2 separate regions of the Homo sapiens genome follow, and region 1 is reported to be linked to region 2. The links are microRNA targets in miRTarBase. Many come from high-throughput screens and were not tested one by one. Region 2 holds a microRNA gene; the other region holds the end of a gene's coding sequence.
The links. Region 2 holds the annotated microRNA hsa-miR-302d-5p (ACUUUAACAUGGAGGCACUUGC, at 2,484-2,505, opposite strand). A microRNA usually pairs through its seed, bases 2 to 8, with sites in the 3' UTR of a target mRNA and lowers its output. Matches are read on the target gene's strand: a 7mer-m8 pairs with bases 2 to 8, a 7mer-A1 pairs with bases 2 to 7 and ends in A, and an 8mer does both.

Region 1 (4,537 bases), not on the chromosome of region 2:
CAGAGAAAGGTTCTGGAGAGAGCTTACCGGGATGGAACTTGAGGCACCTTCTCTAAAGACCACTGCTGAGCTTTGAAGCCACAGGAAGCCCCCAGACCCTGGGAGACCAACACCGCTGCTCAACACGCCTCCTGTTCCTTCCCAGCATTACCAGCAAAGGCTGAACTCCAACTCAGAAAATTCCTCTTGGTGAGGCAGTGATCTGATTCCAAACCACCAACGATTAGTTATGACCAGGGGGCTTAATTCTCCAAGGAAGTGCATTATAAAAGTCACCCCAAAGAAACCTCCAGTTGGTGATATAAAAATATGTGTGTGTGCTCACACTCATGTATGTGCGTGTGCCTGTGGTACACAAGTGACTAGGAGCTCCTAACGTCCTTTCCACTTTTCCCACCTCTCCACCCAGAAGTAAGATTAGCTACATATGCCTGCCTCTCATTTTCTCTGAAATAATTCTGTATAGTACTTTCAGAAATATTTTTTAAATGTCTGGTCCTGGCTCCACCCACTTCTAAACCAACCTTTACTGGCATCTTTGGATCTTCCATTTCAGAAGAGAAAGCCAGGGGACAGAGAATAACCTACTCTCAAAATAGGTGAAACCAGCCTCATTAGAGAACTGAAGGCCCGTTGAGTAATAGCTTGTAAATACCCCCCGATCAAAAAGTCAGCCATGAATAATGTTAAAATTATGACTCCAGCCTTAAGGCATTGTATTCTGTGCTTGAAACAGAAGTGATTTTAACCGATCTTCTGAACTTCAGGAGGACAGACTGGTTAGTAACTCAATGATTTGCTTAAATTTCAGATAAGAAAAGGTATTGGACTACATCCCATTTCTAGCCCTCTCAGCATCTGAGCCAAAAGTCCGAGGTTATAGTACCAATAGGAAATTCCAGGAATTTTTTAAAGGATTTTAAAATTACTAGAGCCCAGAGGCCTCTGGACCTTTTTCGAGACGTTTAACCAAGAATTTGTAGAGTGATCTTCACTAGGACTAGAAGTGGCAAAAACAAAACAAAACAAAAAACAAAACAAAAACAGGGCCAAGAGGATCTTTGAAACTAGTTTCTTTTTATGCCTGTAATGGAGTTTTGTCTGAAAACATGGCACGTAAAATATTGCAAATATTGCTAAGTGTATTTGAGACACTAGTTCAGAGAATAGTTATGGTCGTTTATAGCTTAAAGAAACAGCTGTTGTAATATGCTTGCTACTTTGATGGTTTACAACTATTTTAATCTACAAAGTGTAATGTAATGGTCAAAGTATCATACATTTTTAACAGGCTTTAGTAGAAGCATAATTATTATAGAGGCTATTTTTTTTGAATCAAATCAGATAGCATAAACCAGCTCTTAGATAAAATACACGGTAACCCTGATATCTGTCCCGAGAAAGAAAAGAGGCACACAACAACGGCAATAGTTTAAATATACTGAAGTAGTTTGGTATACCAGTTTAAATATTTTGATGAGCCAAATTCAAACTGGCTAAAATAACCCAAGTGTTGACTCATTTAACTAGAAAGTCTAGTGGAGATCTCAGATGTGGCGGGTGTGGTAGGTCATGTTTTAATTCCCAGCTCCCATAACGCCATCCAACGTCAGCTTCATCCTAAAGCTAGCTCTAGTCAAGATTGCGTGATACAAGATCAGAAAACCAAACGCCACATGTTCTCACTCTTAAGTGGGAGTTGAACAATGAGAACACACGGACACAGGGAGGGGAGCATCACGCATCGGGGCCTGTCGGGGGGTAGGGGGCTGGGGGAGGGATAGCATTAGTGACGGGTTGATGAGTGCAGCACATCACCCAGGGCACGTATATACCTATGTAACAAAACTGCACGTTCTGCACATGTAACCCAGAACTTAAAGTGTATTAAAAATAAATACACAAATAAATAAAGATCGTGTGATAGTTGTCAGTAGCAAAAGAATCCAAATGCTTTCTCCTCCATATCCAGGGAGAGTGTATGTTTCTGTCCCAGCATTCCAGTTTGGAACGCTGAGCGTGTCCCTGACTGGAGCGGCTTACATTCTGTGTCGCTTGTTAATGTTGTGGCCAGGGAGATGGTTTGTGCAGATCAGCTTTTCCAATTATGACGCGTTTTCAGCACTAGGGATGAAATCATTTCCTGAGAAGGACAAGGATGATGTGGCGGATAGACATTAGTAGTAAAACTGGGGAAAGAGGAAGACTGAATGTTGGTTGTTCACTATATGGACAACTGGTCCGAAAGACACTAGCAAGCCCATGGCTGTATTTATTGAAAATTGCTGTTAGTATAATACTAATAAGAAAATATACTAATATATAAATATACTAATATAATACTAATAAGAAAATAATTCCCAGATTACAAACAACAACAAAATTTCAAGGCCAGTATGTTTCTTTTTTTATTATTTTTGTGTTTGACTTAGATGGTTGAAATGTTTTCATTTTTCATTTATAAGCATTACATTAATTTCCATGCAAAAACCCAAGATCGCATATGTCTGATTTCAATTGGCCAAAATCCAACCCTTGAGTTTGGACATTCAAGACCAAAATGAACACGTTACTTGCCCTTTCTATGAGTAGACATCATGGGTGTCCTTTGAAAGATCAGCAGGCCTCCTGACCTCTTAAACACCAGCTTGCCATGAGTCCACACCAAAACAGGGAGCCAATACCTTCCAGCACCTAATCAGGCAAGTAACTTCACTCATGAAGACAGGACACCTCTATACCAAGGCTGCCACCCACAGATATTTCCTGGGTGCTGCTCTATAGCAATACCTGCTTTTGAACAGACGTGGTATCTTCTATTTGGGGATTATAAGTTCTTCCTGCCAGTTTTTCTCAAAACTCTCAGGAAGAGTAGAGATTTTACAAAAAAGCTTACCTCTATGACCCCAAAAGAAATAAATACAAAGACACCTACTTCATCAAGTGTATATTTTCCCCAGCTTTAGATGGGGTCAACATGTATAAAGCTTTAACAACTTCTCTCAGTAAGACAGGAACCAGGAATATCAAAGAGGGCAAAGCAGGACCCCACAACTGAAGGAGAACTAAGCAAATGCAAAGAATCATTTCACTGATAGAAATGGGCAAAATGAAAAAATGATAGAATTTCGAGAGTGGTTGTTAATTTATATTGAAACACACTTTGCAATTCTGACAATGGCAAAGATTAGTGCAAATAATAATTATAATGGTATGTTCTTTAATAGGATTTAAATAAGGCTTCAAATAATTACATATGCTAAAATTAACATTTGGAAACCTTAATTCTGCTTGGAAAACTGTCAAAGACACCCTTCAAACCACCCAGTGTTCTCTGATTTGAGGACAATTACATTCAATGAAGTTGCTCCAAAACACAATTTGTAGTATTATCACTTTCAAAGTTTACATTGTTTGGTGGAAAAGGGGGGAAACTACTCTGGTCACTGGCCAAAATAAATAAATCCAGCTAACATGCCAAGTAGTTCCCAGGTTCATATGATTCTCAAATATCAGTAGTGGTGAAAGCTCATAAGAAAAAAGACAAAAACAAAATAATAAAAATAATAGGATAGAATCGTTAAGCATCAGAAAGAGATTTGTTTCCCCATACCCATGAACAAATTTGCACCAAGTATGAAACAGAAAAAAGCAAGAGGATTCATGGGCATTTTCATCTATGGCTTAAGATCTCCTTAAAAAGAAAAAAAACTCCAACAAACTAAAGAGCATGACAATAACTACAAAAAGTAAACAACGAAATCAGAGGCAGAATATGAAATAGTAATATACTGTTTCAGAGCCTGCACCATCCTGCAGAACCAGGAAACTTAAAATTTGTTCTTAACAAATCCAATCTAGGCTGGATATGTAAAAAACAGAAAGATAGCATCACAAACCACACGACACATTATCAGAGTTTAAGAATCAGGAAAAAAAAAAGTCAGCTAACACTCAGAAAAATTTGTCATCAATTCTGAAATGGGGCCTTGTGACATCGTCAGGATTGATAAAGACAGAGATTGACTTTCCCGGGTTCTCAGTCACTAGCTGCTGCAGTTTTTTTGCCAAACGGTCATCAGGCTGGTTGGGGTCCCCTCCGTCAGACTGTGGAGAGGGGATGCTGGTGGTGCTACCTCGCCTCTGGAGCTCCAGTGTCAGCCGGTTGGCTGCCTTGACATGCTCAATGGCGGTGCGCAAGTGCTCTGCCGGGTCTGAGCGCACAGAGGACAGCTTCCGGGCGTGAAGCATGACTGTCTCCTCAGACAGATGTTCCAGCATGTTGCACTGAGGGATGAAATAATTGGGGCACATCTTGTTGACCAGACAGTGTTGCAGGTCATCGATGAGGCCCAGCAAAAAGTGGGCTGCATAGTCTTCTTGAGCCAAGTAGTTGGCAGGAAGTCTGTCGCAGGCCCAGAGCATCATGCTCCGCAGGTGATAGGGGCTAATAGCCTTGGGCCGGGACAGCAGTTTAATGATGATGGCTTTGCAGGCCTGATAGGCCTGCATGAGGCTGCTGGAGATGCACTTCTTC
Region 2 (4,000 bases):
CTGGCTCCATGTCTGCTCACTCCAACTTCTGCCCCCACCTCCACCCCCTCAGCCCCACCCAAGCGATCCTCCATCAGCCTCCCCAGTAGCTGAGAACACAGGCAAGCATCACCAGGCCGGCTTTTTTTTCTGGCATTTTTAAGAGATATGGGGTCCCACCATGTTGCCCAGGCTGGTCTTGAGCTCCTGAGCTCAAGAGATTTACCTTCACCCCTGAATTGCTGAGATAAGAAGCATTGAGCCACCATCCCCAGTTGCTAAATTTCAAATAGCCAACCTTGTGCTTGTTTCTAATAGGATGGGATCCAGATGTCCTCTTTGAATGTCTGGGTATTGCTAATAATTTGTGTTCAAATCTTAATCTGCAGTTACATACACTAAAATGTGTCATTTTAGGTCGCCAAATATGCAATGCCATTTAGACCCTCATACAGTTTTTTTTTGTTTGTTTTGTTTGAGTCTCTTTCTCCCAGGCTGGAGTGATCTCAGCTCACTGCAACCTCTGCCTCCTGGGTTCAAGCGATTCTCCTACCTCACTCTCGAGTAGCTGGGATTACAGGCGTGCACCACTACACCCAGCTAATTCTTTGTATTTTTAGTAGAGATGGGGTTTCACTATGTTGGCCAGGCTGGTCTTGAACTCCCCCATCCACCCGCCTTGGCCTCCCAAAGTACTAGGATTACAGGCATGAGCCACCGAGCCTGAGGGCCTGAGGGGCAGGTTAAATTGTACCAAATTGAATTAATCCTGCTGATACACTAACATATTAACTTTTTCATTTTCTTTAGATGTTGATATATCACTACTTGTGTCTTTTAACAAAATGAAAAAATTGACTACTGATGGGAAGTTAATTGCCAGAGCATTGAGAAGTTCAGCTGTTGTAGAGGTAAGAATCAAGAATAACTACTGTTTATATTTATAGTTTATAATTATAAAGAATGTTAACGTAATGATTATTATATGATTATAGCTTACAATTATAAATAATATTAGTTTTATTAATGTAATATACTATTTTAAAGCTTGATTTGGAAGGCACCAGAATCCGGAGGAAAAAACCTCTGGGGGAAAGACCAAAGGATGAGGATGAACGCACAGTGTATGTGGTAAGCTTAAGAACCCGGGTCCCCAGTCAGAAACTGGCACAGAAACAATATAATTAAGTTAAAAATTTATTGACATTCTGATTGTGAAAAACTCTAATATTGCTTTTAATTTATAATAGGAGTTACTTCCCAAAAATGTTAATCACAGCTGGATTGAAAGAGTATTTGGGAAATGTGGCAATGTTGTTTATATAAGTATACCACATTATAAGTCTACTGGAGATCCAAAGGGATTTGCGTTTGTGGAATTTGAAACAAAAGAACAAGCAGCAAAAGCAATTGAGGTAAGTCCAGATCCTAAAAAAAAAAAAAGAAAGAAAAGAAAACAAGTATTAAAATAGTAACTTTTGCAATCATTTCAGTTTCTTAACAACCCACCAGAAGAAGCACCAAGAAAACCTGGCATATTTCCTAAAACAGTGAAAAATAAGCCCATTCCAGCCTTAAGAGTTGTGGGTGAGTATTTTTCAATATTTAAATAGGTGTAGTTGAAGTAAGATGAACTAATAATGATGGCACTTTTACAGAAGAGAAGAAAAAGAAAAAGAAGAAGAAAGGCCGAATGAAAAAGGAAGACAATATCCAAGCCAAAGAAGAAAACATGGACACAAGCAACACCAGCATCAGTAAAATGAAAAGATCCAGACCCACATCTGAGGGCTCTGACATTGAGTCCACTGAACCCCAAAAGCAGTGCTCAAAGAAAAAGAAAAAACGGGACAGAGTTGAAGCATCTAGCTTACCTGAAGTCAGAACAGGGAAGAGGAAGAGAAGCAGCTCTGAAGATGCAGAATCCCTAGCTCCCCGATCAAAAGTAAAGAAAATTATTCAGAAAGACATCATTAAGGAAGCATCAGAAGCTTCCAAGGAAAATAGAGGTAAAACTACAAGGTTTTAATTAGATAAAACTAATTAATTTTAATTAATTAGTTTTTAATTAATTAGGTTTTAATTGGCTTCTGTTTCACCCATTTCACAGCCCCATGTCTTAACGGAGAGCTTTTTTATTTATTTCAAGATATAGAAATCTCTACTGAAGAGGAAAAGGATACTGGAGATCTAAAAGATAGCTCTCTCTTGAAAACAAAAAGGAAACATAAGAAAAAACATAAAGAGAGACATAAAATGGGAGAAGAAGTTATACCATTAAGAGTGCTATCAAAGTAAGTCTGTGGTTTAAATTCTGTCATTGGCTTAACAATCCATCACCATTGCTAAAGTGCAATTCCAATTTATATTCAACAGAGTTGCATATTAGCAACAGTAATGGCCTGTAGCCAAGAACTGCACACAGTGTGGGCGTTAACGCAATTGCTGATTAGGTAGGAACCACCACACTCAAACATGGAAGCACTTATTTTTGTCATGTCACAGCAAGTGCCTCCATGTTAAAGTAGAGGGGGCCCCTTAACAGATGTAAAAATACAAAATAAAGCTTAAATATATGAGCTGCGGTCAATACAATAAAGTTATTTTCTAAAAAAATAATAAAAATGTAAAAGGAAGACTTACCATCACCAAAACATGGAAGCACTTACTTCTTTAGTTTCAAAGCAAGTACATCCACGTTTAAGTGGTGGGGAGCCCAGTCTTGGAAAAAGTTAGAATCCTTTAACCTGTAACAAGCTTAGTAACCTTAAAACACAATAACAAAAAAATTTTGTAACAAAAGGTGTGCTGGCTTGGAGACACCTCCACTGAAACATGGAAGCACTTACTTTTGTTTCACACAGCAGGTACCCCCATGTTAAAGCAAAGGGGATCCCTTCAAATGAGGTTAGCGTGTTCTATTTTGGAGAAGTAAATTGGATTCACTCCTACTAAAACATGGAAGCACTTACTTTTAAAGTCACAGAAAGCACTTCCATGTTAAAGTTGAAGGGAGCCCACCCAACATACAACTTCTTTGGACTTCAGAGTATTTAGAGCTGAGGAGAAAGAAAACAAAATGGCATAACTTTAGAAGAAAAAAATTTTTTTACCTTCCTGAACTAGTTCCCAAAGATTCGTGTTCTCCTCCAGAAGGGTAAAAGGCAGGGACTTCAGCCACTTCTATTTATACTATTCTTAACTCTTGAATTCCTTTTGCCTTTTTATCTCAGAGAATCATTACAAGGGCCTTTTGTTATTTTAATGTATCAGCTCTCAGGGAATGTATGATCCTGGGTGGGTCTGGATCCTTTTTTTTTTTTTTGAAGTATACAGATGTCAATGTTAACAGCTAAAACCATTACCACAAGATATCTTCCTCTTAAAAAAAAAAAAGAAAAAGAAAAAGAAAATCTCCTATCTGCTTGTTTGATGGCATAGATTAGGGTAACAATGAGTGCTCCCACTGAGCCGAGAAAGGCATTGTGTTTCTATCTGGAGGAACTCTGTTTGAAGAAGCATCTACATGTTAAATGTATGTAAATAAATAGATTGCTTCCACGGGGTGTTTTGTTCTACTTAGAAATTCTTTTTGATTCAAGTAAATACTAAGGAATGTTATCTCTCAAATTGGAAGCAGTTTAACAAATCTTTAATCTCGCCCTTTTCCCACAGAGATGACTGATTTAGTAAATGTTACTAGTTAAGGAATTAATGCTAAAATTTTACTTTTATAAATTAAAATACTTCAGACACTCAAAAATTTAATTGGCAATCTTAAAACATTTAATCTGAATATTGGGGGAAGAGGAACTCCCTTAGCTTATTTTGCTAAATGTCTTTAGAACCTAGGAAATATTTTGAATATGTGTTTAAAGAAACAGGAAAGTTGGTGGAGGAGTTGCTCCAAGTCATTGTGAATGTATATATTTAGATATTTCCCTATTTACTTTTTATATTTAGTCATCTGTTATCACCATTTCTTTCCTTGTAGGAGCGAATGGATGGATTTGAAAAAAGA

Region 1: miRTarBase lists MB21D2 as a target of hsa-miR-302d-5p. Seed matches in the 3' UTR shown: 7mer-A1 at 3,218-3,224 and 7mer-m8 at 2,988-2,994.

What each region holds. Positions count from the first base shown.
Region 1 is chr3:192,794,432-192,798,968 of GRCh38, forward strand. MB21D2 (Mab-21 domain containing 2) reads right to left here. Exons shown (of 2, transcript NM_178496.4): 2 at 2,384-4,537. The coding sequence ends at 3,955. Among named protein-coding and RNA genes, the nearest start is that of FGF12, 69 kb to the left of the region's middle.
Region 2 is chr4:112,645,562-112,649,561 of GRCh38, forward strand. MIR302D (microRNA 302d) reads right to left here and starts at 2,510; the gene lies at 2,443-2,510. It overlaps LARP7 (La ribonucleoprotein 7, transcriptional regulator), which reads left to right. Exons shown (of 13, transcript NM_016648.4): 3 at 790-890; 4 at 1,027-1,110; 5 at 1,230-1,394; 6 at 1,473-1,566; 7 at 1,638-1,988; 8 at 2,129-2,273; 9 at 3,974-4,000. MIR302CHG (miR-302/367 cluster host gene) reads right to left here. Exons shown (of 3, transcript NR_146092.1): 2 at 2,952-3,038; 3 at 1,159-1,407. MIR367 (microRNA 367) reads right to left here and starts at 2,380; the gene lies at 2,313-2,380. It also overlaps MIR302A, MIR302C and MIR302B. RefSeq lists an enhancer at 3,310-4,000.